Linked DNA regions of Homo sapiens: region 2 is linked to region 1. Evidence: fine-mapped expression QTL. A gene starts in region 1. The other region holds a variant in brackets. All regions are shown on one strand. Distances are between the middles of the regions. Region 1 holds the start of LRP2 (LDL receptor related protein 2). Region 2 overlaps LRP2 (LDL receptor related protein 2).

Evidence for each region. PIP is the estimated chance that this variant, and not a neighbour inherited with it, causes the effect.
Region 2: its variant is fine-mapped to the expression of LRP2 in nasal epithelium (TOPMed, PIP above 0.99).

The regions. Positions count from the first base shown.
Region 1 is chr2:169,355,914-169,367,272 of GRCh38, reverse strand. It overlaps LRP2 (LDL receptor related protein 2), which reads left to right and starts at 4,739. Exons shown (of 79, transcript NM_004525.3): 1 at 4,739-4,952. The coding sequence starts at 4,874. RefSeq lists enhancers at 3,621-4,254, 4,255-4,888 and a silencer at 9,651-9,835.
Region 2 is chr2:169,288,969-169,300,327 of GRCh38, reverse strand. LRP2 (LDL receptor related protein 2) reads left to right here. Exons shown (of 79, transcript NM_004525.3): 5 at 5,618-5,728; 6 at 6,067-6,180; 7 at 7,959-8,075; 8 at 9,331-9,483; 9 at 11,183-11,302. Among named protein-coding and RNA genes, the nearest start is that of LRP2, 68 kb to the left of the region's middle. The variant C/T (reference allele first, on the strand shown) is at 6,167.

The DNA of each region.
Region 1 (11,359 bases):
TTCAAGGCTGCGAAAGCACGTAGTACATGTTCGAAGAACCAAGTGGAGGCCAGGGTGGCTGAACTGTCAAGTAAAGTTTGAGATATTGTCAAAGGCCCAATCATGCAAGGGTTTGTAGGCTATGCTAAAAATTTTTCATTTTATTGTGGAAAAATGGAAAAGTGATTGAAAGGTTGTAATCAGGCAAGTGTATGGTTGGCATAATGACTAAAAAAGATTATTCTGGTTGCAGAGGGAGAAGAATTTTGAGAAGGCCATGGGAACACAACAAATGTGACAAGTGCTGGGCTGAGGGAAGTAAAGAGAGTTCTGAGGGCATGCATATCTGATTTTCCCCATAACATCCTCTAGAGATACTTTTTTCCCAGTCCAAGATCCACCCTAGGGTCATGCACTGCATATTTCTAAACTGCATATCTCAGCCTTTCTTTATCTTTTATGACCTTGCCATTTTTGAAGTATACAAAATATACTGCAAATACTGTACTTTAGTACTTAAATGTCCCTTAGTTTGGACATTCTAAAAAATGAGAAAACATTGGTTTGACTGATGTTTTCTCATGCTTAGATTTGGGGCATGCACAGTAATACCACAGAAGTGCTGCTGTGTCCTTCAGAGTGTGTCACACCAGGAGGAACATGATGTCAGTTTGCCTCATATTAGTTTTGATTGTTGTGTTGACTTTGATTCCTTGGTTCAATGTAGAGCCTATTGTATTTACCACATTTCTAGCTTCTATAAATATAATGCCTTAATATATATAGGGGAGAGAGAGACAGGTTCTCACTGGAGTGCAGTGATGTGATCATAGCTCACTGCAGCCTCCAACTCCTAGGCTCAAGCCTCAAGTGATTCTCCTGCCTCAACCTCCCAATGTGCTGGGATTACAGGCATAAACCACTGTGCTGGGCCTAAACTTCATGTTTAACATCTGTCCTGCATGCACATGCCATATACACTTTGTTCTAGATAATCTGTTAATATGCCTGACATATTAGTCATCTTGCTTTGACCTCCTGCTTGTTTTATAAATACAAATTAGTCAGTCCTAAACCTGCTTACTCTGCCTTGTCTGTTCCTTTAGGTGGAAACCATAGTAAAGGAGCTTGCCCACACTTCTCCCCTTGCCCTCTGCTTCCCTGTGTGGTCCCTTGAGGCAAGATGTGTACTCCTTCTCTTGGGATCTGTGAATATAACAAACTATATTTTCAATGGCAGTTATCTTTTGGTCTGTTGACTTTATCATATTTAAATAATAATGAAACATATTAAAATATCTGACATATTTTTCTGCTTAAAGTCACTTTTTCCCTTTTTAATGAATAAGTAATTTGTGGGGAGATACTTTAAACTTTTTTGGCTGAGATGCATATGAGAAATATATTTTACATGGCGACACAGTGTGTGTGTGTGTGTGTGTGTGTGTGTGTGTGTGTATTGGTTTGGGCTCCATCCTGCTGAGTTTGAGGCCTTAGGACATTGGATTGGAGCTGTTCAGGGGGCAGTTGGCTCTCAGGAGGAAACTCAGGAGGCACTCAGGAGGAAACACACACATACACACACACACACACACACACAGAAACAGTAGTGTTATAAAGTTATACATATCTTTTCCACATGAAAGTTATTTTGGTTTCTATGTTGTTATATTTCATTTGAATATAATTCTTGCCTTGACCTGCTAAATTGATTTCATTACCCTCTAAAAAGTAATTACCTCTGTTTGCAAGCACTAGTTTGATAGAACTACCAAGTTGAATTGTCTGGTTGCCAAATGGAAAGTAGATGGGAGGGGGCAAAACTGATAGCAAGGAGCTCATTCTAAGGCTCTCCCTATAATTTAGATTGATGAGTGGATTGATAAATTTGAGGTAACAGAATTTCATGATTGATTGGCAATGGGGGTGGAAAAAAGAAGGAGTCAAGAATGATGTAAATTTCAGCTTGGCTTCTGGGGCAATGGTGGTGCTGAAGCTTCTTGGTTTCACTTTCACCTGTCTCTTTCGGTTGACTGCTCTGAAAAGTCCTATATACATATATGGAGAGAGAAATGTGAAAACTAAAGAAATTATCTTTTTGCATTATAGAGAAACACTGCTGGCTTAAATTGCAACTGAATTAACCTGGGCTTTCCCAGATACTGGTCCATAGATTTAATCACCCCAATCTAGTAACAGGCATTCTCAGGTATGGATGCCAGAGATAAACACGTGCATGGTGCAGGCTGTTTTCAAACGTCACGAATTGGGGATTGCATTGAGAAAATGGGTTATTCTAGTGGAAAAGTGTGTGGGTCCACATACAGAGTGCTGCGAATGATGGGCTGTGCTCCGCTAGGTGGTCCCCCATCCCTACCCCTTTTCTGCTCTCCTACCTCCCGTTCTCCCTCCCTCCTTTCCCCTCTTCTGCGTTATTCTGGGATTAACGGCGGGGTCGGCCCCATACACAAACGCAGCTGGCTAGTACGGTCAGCCTGAGCCCTGCTGTGCAACCACGTCAGGAATTCCAGTAAGTTGGCAACACTGGAGCACAAAGACAACAACAATTGAGGAACTCTTCAGTACAGAAAGGAATGTTTGGAGCCCTGGCTGCTACAGTGAAAGGGCACACACACACACACACACACACACACACACACACACACACACACACACACACACACACGCTCGCGCCTGCGCGCCCACGGGCGCACTGGAGGGAGCCCAGCCCCTCCCGCACTCGCGCTCCTCCCTCCCGCCAGCCGGCGGCCGCTCTTTGTAAGTCGGAGGTGCGGGGACGCTCATTGACTATGCAGCGCGGCCCCAGCGGGCGTCGGACCGGCTTGACCCCGGCGCGGTCTCGTACCATCGCCTCGGCCGCCCGGAACCGGCATAAATCACCCGCGAAGACTGGAGTGCAGCATCAAGCCCCCTCGCCGCCTCCCTCCTCCCGCTCCGGTCCGGTCGCCCCCTCCCTCCCCAGACCCCGGCTCTCCTGTCCCCAGTCCTGTCTCCTCCGCGCCGCACAGCGCCCAACACTATGCAGGGAGGCAAATAGAGAACCAGTGACTTTGGCCAGAGCACAGACCTCTGGATTTCCCAATCCAGGAATCTCTCCCACTCTTTCCCACAACGCTGCCCGCTCCACCTTTTTTTCTTTAAGCCTAAGTTTTCTCTTTTTGTGTCTATTTATCTCTTTTTGTCTTTCCAAAGTAACACCTATCCTTTCCCTCCCCTAGCCCCCACACCTAAAGCTGCGCCTACCACTGCAGCCCACGGAAGCTACGCGATCCGGACTGTTGGGGTCAGCAGAGCCCCGGACGACCTGTGCCCCGGGGAAAGGGGCTGGCAGTAATTGGCAGGTTCTCGCCCCTGGGGAAGGGAGGCAGCGGGAACCTGTCCAGCGACCACGTGCGTTCAGGGCTGTCTCCTCCATGCGTCACGGCCCCTTCGCTGGAGGGAAAGGGCTCCTGACTTCTTGGACCAGGATCCGGAGCCTGGGACTAGCTGCCGCGCTGGTTCAGGGGCTGGAGCTGGAGATGATGGGATGGCCTCAGGCCCGCAAACAGCCCCTTCTCACACAGGGTTCCCACCACCGGGAAATAACTTGCATCAACCCTCCTTTTTTACCCCTCCCTGTGGGCTCTGATGTCACGTACAGGCTGAGGACGTGCGCTGAGGGCGGGTGTAAGGCCACTTGTGCTTTTGGCTTCCGGGCCCCTTGCCAGCCTGTCCAAAGCGGCCCCAAAGAAGGGAGGCTAGGGGTTCCCTGAACCTCTCGTGTTTCTCCTTCTTATAAAAGGGTACCGGAACCATGGAGAAGACGTTCGCTCTTTTTCAATTTTGCTTCAAAATGAGCAGACTTGTAAGAAGCACGATCTGGCCATGACACCTGTAGATGTGGTGCTGAATAATTGCTAAATAAGGATCCAACCTCCCCAACAAAGATCCACCTCCCTCTCTAATTTGTAAAAACACAAAGCACCCCATCTCAGCAGCCTGTATCCTATCAGGGGAAACCAAGATATCCGAAGGAGCCTAGAGAGATCAGGCCAGGAATGAAGGTCACAGATCTCCATCCAGCAGGCTCTTTACTCCTTCCCTTCCCTACCCCCGCCTCTTTCCCTTTCTTTCTCTTTCCTTCATTTTTACTTGTCTGGTTGTGCTTTCCTTTTCCATTTCTTATTTTTTCTTTCTCTTCTCTATTCTTGACTTTCCTCCTCGTCCATTTCTTTCCATTGCTCATTTAGTAAAACTGCGTCCGTGCAGATTTCCCCGTGAGCCGCCTCGCCGGCTTCTGTGCGGGGCAAACCCTGCGGAGAGGCGAGGGCAGCGCGTGTGCACGTGTGAGTGTGCCTGTGAGAGTGTGCGCACAGGAGTGTGCTCTTGTATGCACGCGTAAAGGGGACTGTGTATGTCGGCGTTGAAGTGTGACTGTGGAATGTGCGCGCGTGTGTGACTGGCGTGTATGAGTGAATCTGTGTCAGTTGGTGTGACACTTAGGAGTGCATGCGCCTGTATGAGTGCGTGTGTGAGTGTGCACACGCCTGTGTGAGTGTCCCTGTGTGAGCACGCGTGTGTTCGAGTGCCCACTCCTCCCCGCGCTGCAAAGTGCAGGGGGCGGGCCGGGCGGCAGGGGGCCTGCCCGCTGGATTCCCGCATGCTTGTTCCGGGGCGGTCGGGTCTAAAGGGCTTTATGCACTGTCTGGAGGGTGGGGACTGGCGCGGGTAGAAAACGGGATGCCTCGGGCGTGGGGGCAGGCTTTTGGCCACTAGGAGCTGGCGGAGGTGCAGACCTAAAGGAGCGTTCGCTAGCAGAGGCGCTGCCGGTGCGGTGTGCTACGCGCGCCCACCTCCCGGGGAAGGAACGGCGAGGCCGGGGACCGTCGCGGAGATGGATCGCGGGCCGGCAGCAGTGGCGTGCACGCTGCTCCTGGCTCTCGTCGCCTGCCTAGCGCCGGCCAGTGGCCAAGGTAAGAGCCCAGCCAGAGCCTCTCGTGGAGCCCCCACTTCCCCGGCTGTGGCAGGGTCGGGTCCGCGGGAGGCCGGAGGGGAGAGCGTCCGGGCAGGGGCTAGGGCCGGGCGGCGGCGCGGGAGCTGCTCCCGGTGGGGCGCTCAGGTTGCTTCGCGAAGCCGGAGCGGGAGCGCCCCTCTTCGCTCGCCAGGAACTGAGCGGCAGCAAACTTGAGAAAGCAGCCCCGCCAGTTTCGGTGACAGCGCACCCCACGGAGACCCTGTCTTTGTTCCCACGGGCGTTGGTCCGATGCTCCTGGAAAGCACTTTGCGGGAGAACGAGGTTCTCCGCCGTTTGCAGCCTGCCCTCCCTAGCGGAGTTCTCTGCTGGGCGGCGCGGTCCCGGGCTCTGCTCAGAGCGCAGCTTTCCACCTGCAGCGCCCCTCCCGGGATCCCTTCGCGCGCCCAGGGCCGCGGGCCAGAGCACTCCTCCCACCACCGGCGAAACTTGGTCCCGCGGTGACCCCCAGAGACCGCTCTCACCATACAGATCATTTACGAGCCAAGATAAGGCCGGGAGGTGGGATTGGCCGAGAGAGTGGCTGAGGGACTGGAGTCTTTTCTTGAAGTTTTCCTTTCCAGCTGGGAGCTGGGGGCTTTTGTGTTGATGAATGGGGCCCGTCTGCATGGCCAGAGTTTTGGGGATCGAATGCAGAAAGTTTCTAGTATGAAGTGCTTTAAACTTCTCTCAAGTTGTCCGATAGTTTATGTTTTAACAGAAACAGAGAAGAGGGAAAGAGAGGGAGAAAGAAGCGGAGAGAATAAAACTAGTAAGAAGGGAAGAGGAGAGAGCGTAAGAGAAGCAAATAGGAATAAGGAAAGAAGGAGGGAAGAGAACGACTGGGGCGGGAGAAGAGAGAGAGAGAGGAGAGAGAGGAGAGAGACAGAGAGAGAGAGAGAGAGGGAGAGAGAGAGAGAGAGAGAGAGAGACAGAGAGAGACAGAGAGAGACAGAGAGAGACAGAGAGACAGAGACCCGGCCGAGGATGAATGGGAAGGGCGAGGAGGAGGCTGGAACCGGCGAGCTCTCCCCCTGGCTTTGCGTTGCTAGGTAGCAGCCGGGAGCTGCGTGTGACCGACCACCAGACAGACAGAGGGGACGCTGCTGCCACCGCAGGGACTAATCTGTCTGTGGGGATGGGAGAGTCCCCCCTTTCCCCTCCTGCTCCTTCCCTCCCGTCGGACAACTTAATTGCCCTACAATGAAAATGAAACCCCTATTGTTGTAGGATTAGCCAAAGCAATAAATTGATTTTCCTGGATCACATATTGGGGTTGATGGGTGGGGAATGTGGAAGCCCCCATTTACGGAGGAGTGAGGGGAGGGCTTGTGGATGGGCCGTGGCATGTATTCAAATGGTTAATCTGCTTTCTTTCCTCAATTCTTAGCGTAAGCTCCTTAGAGGGAATCAAGTAAGTAATTATACAGCAACTCCTAGCAGCACCCATTTCAGACTTCCTGGGAAGAAGTTTGGAAACCCTAACAAACCCCACAGGTCTTGCAAAAGTCTTCAGAAAGGCAGGAGAGGCAAGGAGAGATCATTAATAACCTTCCTTTGAACACCCTTTCTCAGTGTTGGTAACGCAGAAAGAGGGTTTATTATTATTGTGCAGAGTTTGCACAATGCTTAGGGTTGTATCTCATGTCCTAAATATAGCTATAGGATTTACTATATGTTCCTGTCAGTGCCTGGCAAAAGGAAATCTTACCTTGATTCATCTATGTCCTTGTACAACCAAAACAGATATTCTTTTTCCTGGGTTGATGATTTAGTCACTAAATAACCAATACCTACTCTTCTTGATAGTTTTTTGCACCCATCCATCTTCCATTCTATGATAATAATATATAATAATAATGTGTATAGTAATAGTAACCTAGCATACACATATATGTGGCAGGCTTTGTTCTAAGCACTTTATACTTATTGACTCAATTAATCTTCATAATATCCCTTGGAAGTAAGTACTCTTATTATCACTGTTTTACAGATGAGAAAGTGGAGGCACAGAACAATTCAGTAATTTGTCTCAGTTCATACTGCTAGAAAATGGCAAACTCAAGGGATTCTGAATTCAGAGTCTATAATTGCTACAGTATACAGTGTCTGGTTTTCTCTCTCTCTCTCTCTCTTTTTTTTTTTTTTTTTTTTGAGAGAGACAGAATCTCGCTCTGTCACCCAGGCTGGAGTGCAGTGGTGCAATCTCGGCTCACTGCAACCTCTGCCTCCCAGGTTCAAGCGATCCTCACACCTCAGCCTCCCAAGTAGCTGGGACTACAAGCCCGGGGCACCATGCCCAGCTAATATTTTGTATTTTTAGTAGAGGCAGGGTTTTGCTATGTTGGCCAGGCCAGTCTTGAACTCCTGACCTCAAGTGATCTGCCCGCCTAGGCCTCCCAAAGTGCTAGGATTACAGGTGTGAGCCACTGCACCTGGCCCGATTTCTCTTTTTTCTTTTGTACAAAAAATGTCATGCTCCCTAACTTACTGTCCATGTTTGAGGTTCCCAAAGAAGCTGAGGGGCAATATGCAACTCGTACCACCTGCTGCTTCATAACTGTGGATCTTTTTCCAGAATCTCTCCTCAGGTTTCTAAGACCAGAACCCAAGTCTCCCCATTCCCAGTCTTCCTACTTGATCATTTTAAGACGCATTTCCTCTGAATGTCCTCTGCCTGATACGTTGAGATTTCTAGAATCCTGTTGTAATGATCCTGACTTAATATATGAAGTAAAATCCAATGAGATTGTAACAGCCTTTATTTAAGCACTACCTTTTAGGTAGGCTACCATTGCAAACTTCGCATCACTAAAAATTGGAGGGGAAAAAAAAGAGCTCTGAGTATTCTATGTTTAGTCTTTGAAAAAAATTATACCACATCTGTTGTTAAAAATTATTTGCATTTTCCTTATCTTTTGTGTAATGCTTTTCAAGAAAAAACATTTTGCAGAGTCTGAACTCGAGTCAAGCTGTTGGGTTCCAACATTGGCTTTACCACTTTCTAGCTGTGTGACCTTGGGAAAGTCAACCAACTTTGCATAGCTCAGATGGCTTATCTGCAAAATTGACAAGATAATAAGAGAATTTACCCAATGACATCTTGTAAGCATAAAGAGATAAAATATGCCAAGTGCTTAGCATGGTGTAAAGCATATAGACAGTGAAAATAAACTAGAAAATAATCTAAAAATACAATATTTTTATTATATTTATCAACCCTTAAAGTAACATATTGTTTTGCTTCCTATTCCTATTTCCATTTCCAATTTTCAAATATACAAAGGAAAGTCTTCTTTAAGCATTTTTCACTAACAGTTCTCTGAAGACTTCTCAGACCCTAGCATGTGATTGGAAGATTTTTTCTTTTTTTTTTTTTTTTTTGAGAAAATCGTATTGGCCTTAAACAAAGTTGTATTCTGTTTACTAATTAAAAAAACTTATTTTTCAAAAATAGAAATGGGGTCTCACTGTGTTGCCCAGGCTGGTCTTGAACTCTTGGCCTCAAATGATCCTCCTACCTCTGCTTCCCAAAGTGCTGACATTATAGGCAGGAGCCACCTTACCTGGTCCAACATTATATTCTTTAATCCAATAAAAATGTGGTAATGTTTTTAAGAGTTAGTATCAGCTTTTATGACAATTACATCTTCACATGAAGTTTATATGTTTAAAAGGATTGTGGGGGCAATAGCAAACTTGTATCGTTTTTATTCCATCACAACTCTGGAACCTCACTGCTGCTTTAATTTCACAGTTGTTGGCTTCTCTTTCTCTACTTGAAAAAGTTTCTCTTTACCAGTCTTCATAAGACTTCTGCCTGAACTCCCTTCAGTCATGCACCTGTCTCATTTTAATAGAAACTCAGACTTTTTACAGCTAGAGGGAACCTTAGATATCAACTGGTCTGCTTGCATTTTTTTTTTCTTACAGATAAGCAATTAGCCCAGGAGGGAGAAGAAAGGGGCTGAGAGGATGAAAGGGAAGGCGGTTAATAGGTTTCTTGCCTAAGGACATCTAGCCTGTGACAGAGCTAAGATATAAATTTGCAGTGGACCATTTTTTAGATTCATGCCTTCTGAATGTCCCCAGCCTGTTTGGTTGGTTGAGATTTCTAGATTCCTTTTGGAATCCTGACTTGCCAGATAAGGCACAGTCTGATAAGCAGATGAATCTTAAAAACAATTGGATGGGTTACCTGTCCCTGGCCAAAGAGGAATCCTGTGATAGGTTATTACAACCATGTACCATGCGCTTTCAGCTTGGTCCAGAACTGATGCCATGTCAGTGCCCCTACTCCCAAAGACCATACCTCCAGATCCATTTTTCAAATTCTTGAGCCATCAAAGCGCATTCCTGAAGATCTTTGGGTTTTGTAGTGCAGGCTGCTGTAAGACTAGGTTTTCAGTCTTACTAAAGGTAATTATTAGGTCATAATCATTGTTCATGTTCTCTAGTCAGGCACTGTAAGAACACTGAAAGGTTTTTAAAATATTTAAATTAAAATTTTAAATTATCATTTAAAAATAATGATACCAGGAACCTAGATGTATTTCCTGTGTAATCAGAAGCAAGTGCATTGTCATATTGGCTTTGGAGTTTCTGTTAAGTCCTAGTAGCTAGAACAAGGTAAGTAGAAAGTAGAAGGTGCTGAGCTGGGCGTGGGGGCTCATGCCTGTAATCCCAGCACTTTGGGATGCTGAGGCGGGAGGATCATGAGGTCAGGAGATCGAGACCTGCCTGGCCAACATGGTGAAACCCTGTTTCTATTTAAAACACAAAAATTAGCTGGGCGTGGTGACGCACACCTGTAATCCCAGCTACTCGGGAGGCTGAGGCAGGAGAACTGCTTGAACACAGGAGGCAGGGATTGCAGTGAGCTGAGATTGTGCCACTGCACTCCAGCCTGGGTGACAGAGCAAGAATCTGTCTCAAAAATAAAATAAAATAAAATAAAATAAAATAAAATAAAATAAAATAAAATAAAATAAAAATAAATAAAAAAGAAAAAAAAAAGAAAAGAAAGTAGAAGGTGCTTATGAAAGAGTGTTGAATGGATAGGAAAGGGGTTCTCAAGGTTGACTGCACGAATCTAGAGCAACTAAAAAAATACTAATTGTGAAGCCCTATTCTAGCATGGAAAAAATAAGCTTGATGGAACCTTTGGTATAAATCAAATGGTTCTATCGTATCCTATTAACTTTATAGTCTTGAGTAATTAAAAATTTTTACCACTATTGTGTATTCTGTGAATGTTTATTTTATTTTTTCCATGAATATTTATTAAATATCAACAGTGTGCTGATGAGTCAATAGTATCAATACTACAGAAACATTAAGGAAGATGAGAACTGAAAAGAGGTGTCTACATATCTCGCAATTAAAATGGACTGCAGTTTTGCATTTAAGATTCTGAAATAGTCATTGACTCATTCCTAATAACCCTGCCCAGGATCTCACCAGCATTAGAAAGATTGGAGATGTTTCAGCATCCGAGTTCTGGGATGCTTCTTGATAATGATCAGCTAGTAGTTGTTTTGAAATGTCAAGAGCATTTCTGTGGTTCTTCACATGTTCCTAATGCAAATGTTTCCGAAGTAATTTCTTGACAGTTACAGTGTTTTGAGATGAAGTGGGAAGGGCTTGTGATTTTGAAGTTGGAGGATCTTGGTTTGATTCCTACCTCTGCCATTTATTATCTGGGAAATCCAGTACCACACATGCTGGGTGCTCTGGGGCAGTTTTCTTATCTGTAAAATGGACATATATCTACCTCACGGGGTGGTTATGCAAAGGCAATGAATGTGAAATGTTTAATAAACTGTGAAGTCTCATATAGATTTCCATTCATCATTATTACCCAATACGAGAATTTTACTTTTTCCAAACTTGAGAGGAGGAAGATGTTGCAGTATTTTGGTATCTTCTTTACCGTGGGTCTGAGAATGATGCACCTGTGCATGTTGTTACATCCTTACAGTGGCTACCACAACTTCACATGTTATTCAGTACTGTTATGTTGGTGAATGTCACAAAACTAAGTTAAACTGTCTGAGGCAAAAAAGGAAGGTTATTGAAATACATAGTTGAGGCTGGGTGTGGTGGCTCATGCCTATAAATCTCAGCACTTTGGGAGTCTGAGGTGAGCGGATTGCTTGAGCCTAGGAGTTTGAGACCAGCCTGGGCAACATAGTGAGACTCCATCTCTACAAAAAATACAAAAAATTAGCCAGGAATGGTGGTGTGCCCTTGTGGTCCCAGCTACTTGGGAGGCTGAGGTGAGATGATCGCTTGAGCCCAGGAGGTCGAGGCTACAGTGAGCTGTGATCATGCCACTGCACTCCAGCCTCAGCGACAGAGTGAGACCCT
Region 2 (11,359 bases), 67 kb after region 1:
CACTTCTCAGAGAGCTACTCCCCACAGTTACTCTTTACCTTTTACCCAGCTCTATTTTTGCAAGTTTTTTTTCCCATTGTGACATTTACTTTAATAGCTGTAATTTCACTCTCCCAAATAGAATGTCTGTTCCATGAGAAATGGGATTTTATTTCATTCTTTAGTACCTTGCACACTATAGGTGTGCAATAATTATTTTTGTATGGATTGATTAATAAAATGCTGTGGGAATTGCTACTTCACTTGTAATTTTGTTTACCTTTTAATTTAATTCTTAGCACAGTATCTATGAAGTCAGATTTCAATAAATACATGTTGAGCACAAGAGAATTCTAATTAAGAAGAAGGCAGCACTCTGTAGAATAACTGGTTTCTAGGATATTGACATTCATCCAGCAATGATTTGCTGATGAGTATTCAAATTATTTGGGGCTACATTTCCAGCAGGGAGGCTGAGCCACACCATTTCTAGTGATTGGAAAGTGGCTACTCTTATAATGCTGGGGTGCAGCTAGTTTTCCTGTCTCTTTGATTAGATTTTGTCTTTTGTTCTGCCCAGGTGGGTCCCTGGGAATAACTACTAAAGTATGAAACCATGGTGTTGTCTGGCTTTCAATGAAAACATGTAGCCCCGTGCCACTAAACATGATGTACATTATAAACATTTGTTTACCCCTTAGAAGGCATCTTACTTCTTTGTACTATTCCTTGGAGCATTTGATGCACATTTTTCCATCTTGTTGCTCGGTCACTTTTGTAATAGAGCTTGTGTGAGTTTTTTTTTTTTTTAAGGAATTTAGAACTATGTCAGTTTTTATCTCCTTTGCAGTTTTTGGTGATAGCTCTGTTATGGGAAGAAGGCAGTGCTGTGGATCTGGACTCCTTGGAGCAACCCTCTCAGGCACATTTCTAGTTGAGGTCTAAGATTAGGTCACTGTGGATAGAGACCAGCAAGGAATCTCAGGCTTAAGACCCAGTTAGTACAAAGGGAGTGAGCTAAGGAAAACTAGATAACTTAGTTTATTTCTCTTTTTCCTTTGGCTTCCTGAAAGCCACCCAGACTAAACTTGATGTTAGTTCAATTCTACAAGTCCTCGGGATGACCATATTTTCTTTCTCTTTCCAAGGTGCTGAATTTCTTTCTTTCTTTCTTTTTCTTTCTTTCTTTTTTTCTTTCTTTCTTTCTTTCTTTCTTTCTTTCTTTCTTTCTTTCTTTCTTTCTTTCTTTCTTTCTTTCTTTCCTTCTTTCTTTCTTTCCTTCTTTCTTTCTTCTTTCTGAATTTCTTTTTTAATAAATCTGGTTTTATATAACTTTTTATTGAAAGCTTCTTCAAATTACTTTTGGACTGGGGAAGGATATGCTTCTCTGTTTTTTTCCTTGTATATTACTGCATTCCCTAAGAGCTAGTCCATGATGGCAGTCACTTTAGGGACTTGAAATTCACCAGGAATGGGGGTTTGGGGAGTCGTGGTGGTACCTTCATGAGACTAACTTTATGGCCTGTTTTTTGGTATTGACTCTCCTGTTTGTCCTGGTACTCCTTCTGGAAAGTTATTTTTCCTGTGTAGGTTTCCTAGAATTCCTAGATTATATCATATTGAAGTACTTTGTTAACTATGCCATAAGTTGTGGGAAACTAGAGTTGGCCTCACTTTTCCCTTCTTCCTAATGTGGATGGGAAACTGACTGGCAGAAAGAAAATCTTCCCCCCTTCCTCTTGGGTTTCTTCTTTTTCTTTTCATAATCTCTTTTAAGAATTTTCTATTACCATTTCATTCAATTTCTTTCTTCTTTAATTTTTCGCTTCTTCCTGTTACTTACTCTGCAGCCTATAAGTGGTAGATGTATCTGTGGTAGTGGTTAGTAACCTGGGTTATGGAGCCAGGTTGATTGGATTTGAATTCTGGCTCTCCAACTTTACCAGTTATGTGACCTTTTTCAAATTCCTTAACCTCTTAATGCTCAGGTTCTTACTCTATAAAATGGGAGTCATCATAGTATTTACTTCATGAAGTTGTTATGAAGATGAAATGAGTTTATACATATTGAGTACTTTGACACATGTCTGGCACATAGTTTTTAATACATGTTATTGATGATGATGATGATGATGATGATGATGATGATGATGATTGCTTGTTTAACTTTGTGGGTAGCGCTTGAAGTAAGTGCTGGTGGCCAAACTGGTAGATTCTTTCTGGCAAATCATTACATTGACTGGATTAATCTGTCTTGGAGCCAGAGGAAATAACATAAAGTAACTTATAAAGGATGACTCTAGGACCTTGAAAAGTCCCAGGTGTCTGGGCTGGACTTGTATCGGTAATTTCTTGTGTGTGTGTGTGTGTGTGTGTTTCCCAATCTTGGCTTAAGTTTCCTAACCTACTTTTAAGATTCCTTCTTCATAATAATGGTTTTTTCTATGTTGTCCTCAGCCATGTTGTCAAATTGTGAGAATAAAACATGTCTGCAGTCTTCCTGTCAAGATAATAATGAACAGTGCCTTATATTTGTATCTTACTCTGCTTAAAATGATTTCCATTCTAAGAGGTCTACAAGATCTTCAAACTACATTTCTACACCCTCCTCCCTGATTATGTAAACAGAACTATAGCATAGAAATTTCTTGCTTCAAACCAAATCATTAACAGTGAAAAAATATAAAAACTCTTGTCTGCATAATTTTGGGGCAGCTCCCAATTATGGGGGAACAAATCTGAACATGTATCATTTGGGATTGGGAGAAAGTAAAGAAAGGGGAAGCAAGGAGTGGTATGAGGAAGGATATTCTCACCTTTTTGTGTTAGAAAAAACCTTAAAGGTCTGAGGCTTAATTTATAGCTACTTGTTGATCTTTCCATTAAAACCAAATTCAGAAGGAAGAGTTTCCTTGGTGTTCTTATATATGGTCTCCTCTCATATTGCACTTTACCCTATACTTAAATTCTTGCAGGACATTATAGCCACATGATGGATTTGCTCTGTGGGAAGAAGGTTAGACTTAGGCTTGCCAAGCAAATGAACCAAAAAATAAGACTTTAGATATCTCCCAGTTGGAAGCTCAAAGGATTGTGAATTATTGTTTTCTGGAGTAGATTGAAACTCATTAACATCTTTAGCAATGGTAGTAGAATCCATTCATTTCTTTCTTTGCTCAGTGTTGACAGTTTGGACCTGTTGTCTCTGTGTGGGTCTCCAAAGAGGGAAAACCATTCAGAAACAGATTTTCAGGTATTTTCAGTATTTGGTGGAGTTAGGGAGCTCTGTGCAATCTTTCCTATGAGTATACATCCCAGGTTAACTATGCACCGAAGAGATCAAGGTGTGCAGGGGTTGAGAGGGGTCCTCTGCTGATTGAGAGTGATTCTTTATCAGTGTGGATGGAGACAAGAAAGCTGTGTGTTCCTCATTCCAAAAGTCAAACTGCTGACCTCTGGCCATCACAATACCCTCCCTGATGATATCAAGCTGGGCTTCTTGTTTGTTGGGTGGGGAATGGGCCTTGTCAGTAAACTTGTAGTCATGTCAGTGGTTACAGTTTTAATCTTTCCCCTTTCAATTTTCTGGCACTGGCTCTCAAAAAGCAGGATGAAGAAAACGAGAGATCCATCCAGCACACTTATTCCAGATTCTTTATATTTATAATTATCACCTTAAATGAAGTAGCCACCGTTCAAGCCCAGATTAATTTTCCTCCAGACAGATAGCTTATCTATTGCAAAGAGCTGGGTTTTCTACGAGTTTTTCTTCTGCTTGCTGCTGCTCTTAAAAGGCTAGATAACACATTGACTCTAGGAGCTATCTGGCTCACAGGGGCAAAGGAATTGCTTGCTGACCTCACCTGGTCTTTTGCATCTCTTGAAGGGAGAATTAATAAACATCACTTGAAGGGAGAGTTGTGTGACTCATTTGAAGGCACATTTGTAAGGCATATCATCTCAGCGAGGAAAGACGCAATAACTCTAGGCACTGGCTCACTTTTGGACTATTAAAAAACAAAATAAAATTCAGAAAAAATTTTAAATTTTAACCAGCTATTTAAAAATGCCTTCCATTTTAACATATGATTGACTATATGTAACTCTGGCAATTGAGATATTTAAGGACACTTAATAAACTAGCTTTGAACCTCTGGAGATGAGAAGAGTTAGGCTTATTCCTTTACTATACCAAAAAAAAGATCATTGGAGAGTCCATTTTTTTAAAAAGTGCAAGTTGTTAACATGGCACAAGTTTAGTACAGTTTCAGCACAGAATTTTGTGCATGGCTTCTGCTTGAAAAGACTTGGGACTATCCAAAGAATTATCTTCAATATATTTATATCTCTATAAAATCTCAAATTGGGTTCTTAAGTGCAAAATTGAGACTCAAAGTCAATTAAGACATACCTTTTCCTTGGTTAAAAAGAAATCAGAAGATGACCTGATAATCACTACAAAAATAATCTTTCATGAAGAAGATGGTCAGACCAAGGAAGATATCCACATTTGTGAAAAGGAGGGTATTCAAAGGCCATAAAAGGCAGAACTTCAAAATATTTTAAAAAGCCGAATGAACTAAAATGTTCACCTGTGATAAATAATAGCAACATTGAACATTTCTCAAGCACAGAGAGTAATGTCCCACCCCTGTACTAAGTGTGCACAGTGAGAAATGTCCCACCCCTGTACTAATTGTTGGGGATTCTAAAATGAGTAAGACAGGATCCTTGATCTCAGGGAGTTTCATTATGTCATGGCGGAAAGAGATCAACCATCCACAGAATAAAGCCTCCAGTAAGAAGTCATGAGAGACAGGTGGTCCAAGTCTGGCAAGTAGAGAGGAGGGACAGATAGCACGTTATTCCTGTAAGGGACTTCCTGATTTTCAACTGTGACCTAGAAAACCAGGTCCAGTGAGTAGCAGTGAGGTGGTCATATGTACATAACGTGGCAACAACAATTTGTGCTTTGAAAGCACATTATGCTTTTCAACATGCTTTACCAGACATGGTCTTTTCAGGCCGCTCTACCCTGTGCAGTAGGTTATCCAAATGTGCAGATAGGGAAGTAGCAACATGGAGAGGACATGAAGCTTGAGTCACAGTAAATAGCTGCTTAGTGGTACCTCTGGGCCGCCAGGGCTCCTGAACTCTAGGCCTGCTTTCTTTCTGCAACCCGCCAGTGGAAGAAATGGCCTTTCTTTTTTCCAAGCTTGTGCAGTGGTACTTTAGTTTCCTGGGATGTTATCTGTATCATGTAAAAGAATGTTTGATTTTGAACTAAAGTTAAATTCTTTCTCATTCTTCATCTTTTGGCTCAAAAGTCACTTCTTCAGGGGATACTTTTCTGGGCCCCCAAATCTCTCTGCTATGCAGTCTCACAGTCCTCTGTACTTTCCACATTAGCACTTATCCCAGTTTGTAATTTACCATTTGTGTCTTATTTGATTAATGTCTGTCTCCCATGTCCAGCCTTACTCTCCATGAAGCCAGGGAGCATACTTCTTTTGTGTATCAATATATGCATTTAGTGACTTGCATATAGTAATCACTCAATAAATGTTTGCTGAAGGAAATTTAAGGTTTGTTTACTGTTTCCTTTTCCTTTTTTTTTTTTTTTTTTTTTTTACAATAGAGTACCCAACATGTGAGCAGCTTACTTGTGACAATGGGGCCTGCTATAACACCAGTCAGAAGTGTGATTGGAAAGTTGATTGCAGGGACTCCTCAGATGAAATCAACTGCAGTAAGTATTGTGCACAAGATGTGCAGTTGTGTGCTGAAGCTGGTTTATACTGGTTTGAGAGAGCCAATATGTACATCTCTTCCCAAGTTCAGGTTCAGTGAATTCATGTTGGTAGTTTGAAGTCAGCCGTTGGTAGGAGTATTTACACACTGGAAATCGGCAAACACTACAAACCAGGGCCTTTTTGTTCCTGGATAACTGGTTCTTAAACAGTTACCAGCACACCACTGCTTAATAAGAATCCCTTTTTAAACTGGAGATGCTCTTCCTTTGAGATTAAATGGCTACAATGGAGTTAACTTCTCTCTTTTCTTTCCCTTCTTAACTTTCTGTTGCAGCTGAGATATGCTTGCACAATGAGTTTTCATGTGGCAATGGAGAGTGTATCCCTCGTGCTTATGTCTGTGACCATGACAATGATTGCCAAGACGGCAGTGA[C/T]GAACATGCTTGCAGTACGGTGATTTCTTTATGCTGGGTCATGTTGTTGGGAGTGTTTTGTTTTGTTTCGGTTTTGTTTTGTTTTATCCCCCCGCTCCCCCACCAATGTACCTCTTTTTTCAAGGAGAAGAGTCACTACGTTTGATGGCAGATGGAATCAGACGGTCACTAGGGGGTCTTGGCACAAGCCTTTGTGGTGTTGCTCGACCTGGGCTCCTTTATTTTCCAAGGATCTGTGTAGATGTAAAGGGCTGGTGATGGACAGTTTGCCTTCTTTCCTTAGGCTCCAGGGGTACAGGATATATTGTATCACTGGATTCTCAAATGACCCATACCTCTGACAACCTTGATAGTAGAATGAGAGAAGTGTTTTTAAGGGAAAGGAAGTTCCTAGGAGTGGCTCTAACTCTCCTCTTTACTTTGAAATTTCTGCTGCATTAAAGTTGGAGGGTCAGGAAAGTTTCTTTTTCTTCGTTTTCTTTTTTTGGAGATGGAGTTTTGCTTTGTTGCCTGGGCTGGAGTACAGTGGCGCGATCTCGGCTTACTGCCACTTCCGCCTCCTGGGTTCAAGCAGTTCTCCTGCTTCAGCCTCCCGAATAGCTGGGATCACAGGCATGCACCACCATGTCTGGCTAATTTTGTGTTTTTAGTAGAGATGGGGTTTCACCGTGTTGGCCAGGCTGGTCTCGAACTCCTGATCTCAAGTGATCCGCCCGCCTCGGCCTCCCAAAGTGCTGGTATTATGGGTATGAGCCACCACGCCCAGCCTGAAAGTTTCAGTGTGGTATAGGTGGCTTTCTTGCCTCCACTTCTTCACGCTGACCTTGCTTTTATGTCCATGCTGTTGCCTGCAATGCAAATGACCTCTCTTATTGTTGCCACCTCTCCACTTATGTTTTTTGGAAAGAGTAAAGTTAGAAGACTCTGTGAAAGAGTTTTACTATGTTCAGTAAGTTGGCAGCTTTGCGTGGTGATTTATTTACTAGAATGTATGATTTCCCTCCACACCTCTTTTGATTGGTTGGTACCCATGCCTTAGGGTGTTGTTAAATATTTTCGATATCACCCTAATTTTCAATGAGCCATGCCTGACTTCCTTTCTGGAACCTGGGCTTATTTCAGTGACAGAGAATTAAAGAGAATGTGACATCATGGAATGGTCGACTCAGAATCATTTGGTCATAGATTAGCAATTACGGAGCTTGTAGTAAAGTATGAGAACGTTGGATGTTGTCATGTCTGCAGCATCTTTGTCTGCATTTTCTGTTCTGTGCCAACGCATTGCAAACCATCTTGTTTTTAATTTTTTTTTTTTTTTTTTTTTTTTTTGAGACAGGGTCTCACTCTGTCACCCAGGCTGGAGTGCAGTGGTGCGATCTTGGCTCACTGCAACTCCACACACCCCCACCAGGCTCATGCCATCCTCCCACCTCAGCCTCCTGAGTAGCTGAGACTACAGACATGTACCACCATGCTTGGCTATTTATTTTTATTTTTCGTATTTTTGGTAGAGATGAGGTCTCACCATGTTGCCCAGGCTGATCTAATTTTTAATCTTGAAAAACAGAAACCGGCACCTGAGTTCATTTCCTGGACCCAAAGCTGCTGTTATCTTCTTCTTTCTCTCTCTTTTTTTTCCTCCTTTTTAAAAATTTTTGTCAAGATGTCTAAGGGATTAAATTGATATAGAAATTTCAATTTCTAGGAGTACTGCTTAGGCAGTGAGGTGAGAGCACTTTCAGTTTTTCCCGGTGATTTGTGTCTTTGGAGTGCAGCTGTTGCTTTATTCCAGACTATCCGACCTGCGGTGGTTACCAGTTCACTTGCCCCAGTGGCCGATGCATTTATCAAAACTGGGTTTGTGATGGAGAAGATGACTGTAAAGATAATGGAGATGAAGATGGATGTGGTAAGGAGGGGAAGAGATTCCTACTGAAAAGCATTTTCTTCAAGTGTTTTCCAGCGCTTGTTTTTTCTCCTTTCCTTTTTAGAAATTTTGTGTGACAAGCAAGCCTCAGGATTGGCTGGAGTTGAAGGGGTTGTTTAGGAACTTAGTGGGTGGGGAAGACGGAGGTGACTGCGCTAACTTCTCCTAAGAAGATTCAGAACACAAATACAGATTAAATTATAATCCTCTCCCTTCTATCTTTAAGGCAAAATAGGTAGGACAGTCTCTGTCTCTTCTATACCCCAGTCTGACTTTCTCCCTGTAAGACTGCCTGTTTTAAATAGATTTAAAACTATATAAAACTAATAGGCTGGGGAAGGAAAGAAAATAGGGAAAATGTCATTTGTCTTAGACCTTACAATCTTTAAAAATGACTTTGAACCTTGGTAACAGTTCAGCTTATTTTTTTGTTTTGGTTTTGTAAATTCTGATTCCCAAATGAGTCACTGACACTCAGTGGTGAAAGAGAGGCCACCTTGGGAACACGTGGGTTGGAGCTGGGGATGGTAAGTGTAGGAGAAGCTACTATCCAGGGAAGTGCTTAAAGATTCCGTGAGAAGGAAATTGCCAGTGATATTCACCCTTTTATGTTGCTGATATTGACCCTTTTATGTTGCTGATATCATCAGCAGTACCTCCAACAATTTAGCAGTTACTAATACCCATACCCTACAGCAAGTTACCTGCACCATTCCAATCCCAGGTATGATAAGGGAAATGCTTGTTAAAACTATGTTTTATGTTTTTATGTTCCAGAAAGTGGTTTTTCTACATTTGGGTTATGGTTTTTCTTATACTGTTGACATTTCACTAAATAAACAAAGCAAATCAAAAAGCCCAACCACAAATTCAAGTAATTCTGGACCTAACTTGATGGCCCTAATTCTATAATTCATGATTTAAATAACTACATCTTTTCTTAGGGGATCATGAATTTAGTTTGTCGATAATTGAGGCCCATATCTGCTTCTTCCTCTTATAACCCTACTGGGGGCTGCCTTTTCCAGGAAAAGTGGAGTAATTCCATTATGCCTCTCCTTAGAATCTCAGTAAAAGACTAGTGGTAGAGTTAGAAATCACTAACTTATTGTAAAATGTAGATCATTTATAGATTTCTCTTGTTCAACTTGCTCTACATCCTCTGTAAACCACTGATTAACAAAGAGCTGGCTGTACCTCCCCTATGGCCTGTAACTCTCTCTTTTTCCCCCCACAGAAAGCGGTCCTCATGATGTTCATAAATGTTCCCCAAGAGAATGGTCTTGCCCAGAGTCGGGACGATGCATCTCCATTTATAAAGTTTGTGATGGGATTTTAGATTGCCCAGGAAGAGAAGATGAAAACAACACTAGTACCGGAAAATACTGTAGTGAGTATAGACATTTACCTGGGTAGCTTTCAGATAAAGATATTTCTGTTTTCTAGAACAGACGTTCAAATACAGTGTATCTGTTGGCATTTGCATAACAAAGCACCCCAAGACTTAGTGGCATAAACTGAGAAACGTGTCTTATTTCTCACAGTTCTGTGGGTTGGCTAGGTAGTTCCTCTGGCCTGTATCAGCTCACTCACACGTCAGGATGTTGCAGTAAAAGCTTGGGCTAGCCTAGCCTTGTTGACCCAGAGGCTGAAAGAGCAAATCCTAGGGCTCAAGTACTTTCAAGGTTCTACTTATGCCAAGTTTGCTCAAGTCTTATTGTCCAAAGCAAGACACTTGGCCAAACCCAGAGTGGATGGAAGAAATAGACTCCATCTATTGATGGGAAGAGCCTAACAATTTTTTAGCAACTCCCCGTTCCTAATCCCTAACGCACACACAGGGAGGATTGTTTCAATGGCAATTTTGATGACCTTAAAGATGTTCTGGAGATTTTATTACCTGGCTTATACTTATGGAAAAAGGCCTTGTCTGGCTGTACTAAAAAAAAAAAAAAAAAAAAAAAAAAAAAGCTTCTGGTTCCTGGGTTATGTACCTTGAGTTACTCTCCAATGGCAAAACTGAGTTGGCCATGCACAGTGTTGTTCGATTATGTCTTGTGTGACCACATTCATTTATGAGGAAACTGACTGGAACTAGGGATTTTTTTTCTCCTTTTTTGGGGCTGTAGAATATTCACCCCACCAACAACCCATCAACTCTGTGGACAGCTGATGGTCCTGTAAGGAAATGCCATTTAAAACCTTGATTTCATCAATAATATACTCTAACTAAATTTGTGATTGCCTAGAAGTGCCCATGTAACTGCAACCCCAAGGTTATTTTTTGTTTCCTGACAAAAATTGTACATAATATTTAAACAGGCAGAGACCTCTATGGCATTTTTTTCTCTATTTCATTTGGGAGCCCATTTAAAAAAGCTTAAAAATTAATAAGAGATATGTAGTCACAGTATGAAAGTTGGAAAATAAAAATTAACCAAAAGAAAAAAATATAATCACCTGAAATCCCATCTCTTGAAGCCAGCCACAGTTAATATTTCTAGGGCTTATTCTTGCTCCAGTCACTTGGGAGTTCTTAGCCCTTTTTACTATGTAGACACAAAGATAGACCCATGCATGACCTGATTTTTTTTTCATAAATAAGACTTTTAATGACTTATACTTGCACATAGTTATAACTTTAAAAAGGAGCTTTTTCTTTTCTTTTGTTTCCACTCAAGGCAGCCTCTTGTTCTGTCACCCAGGCTAGAGTGCAGTGGTGCAGTCATAGCTCACTGCAGCCTCCATCTTTTGGGCTCAAGTGATCCTCCTGCCTTGGCCTCCCAAAGTGCTGAGATTACAGTTGTGAGCCACTGTGCCTGGCTAATGCTTTTATTTTTAATTTTTTGTGAATATGAGGTGTAGCTACATTACCCAGGCTGGTCTTGATCTCCTGGCTTCAAGCAATCTTCCTGTCTCAGTTGAACTTTTATTGCAAAGTTTTGCAGTAAGCTTTGAAGGGTGACAGATTTTTCTGTACATCTACTTCATGCTTACTGAGCTGCTACTCATGGAAAAAGAAGCTATTAGATTAATCAGTCTTGTCCAGAGGTCACCATTCATTTAACAAAGTTCTTTTCTTCGTTTAGGTATGACTCTGTGCTCTGCCTTGAACTGCCAGTACCAGTGCCATGAGACGCCGTATGGAGGAGCGTGTTTTTGTCCCCCAGGTTATATCATCAACCACAATGACAGCCGTACCTGTGTTGGTAAGTGATGGGGGGCGGCGGCTACTTGTCTTTCATTACAGTACACTGATGGGTGCC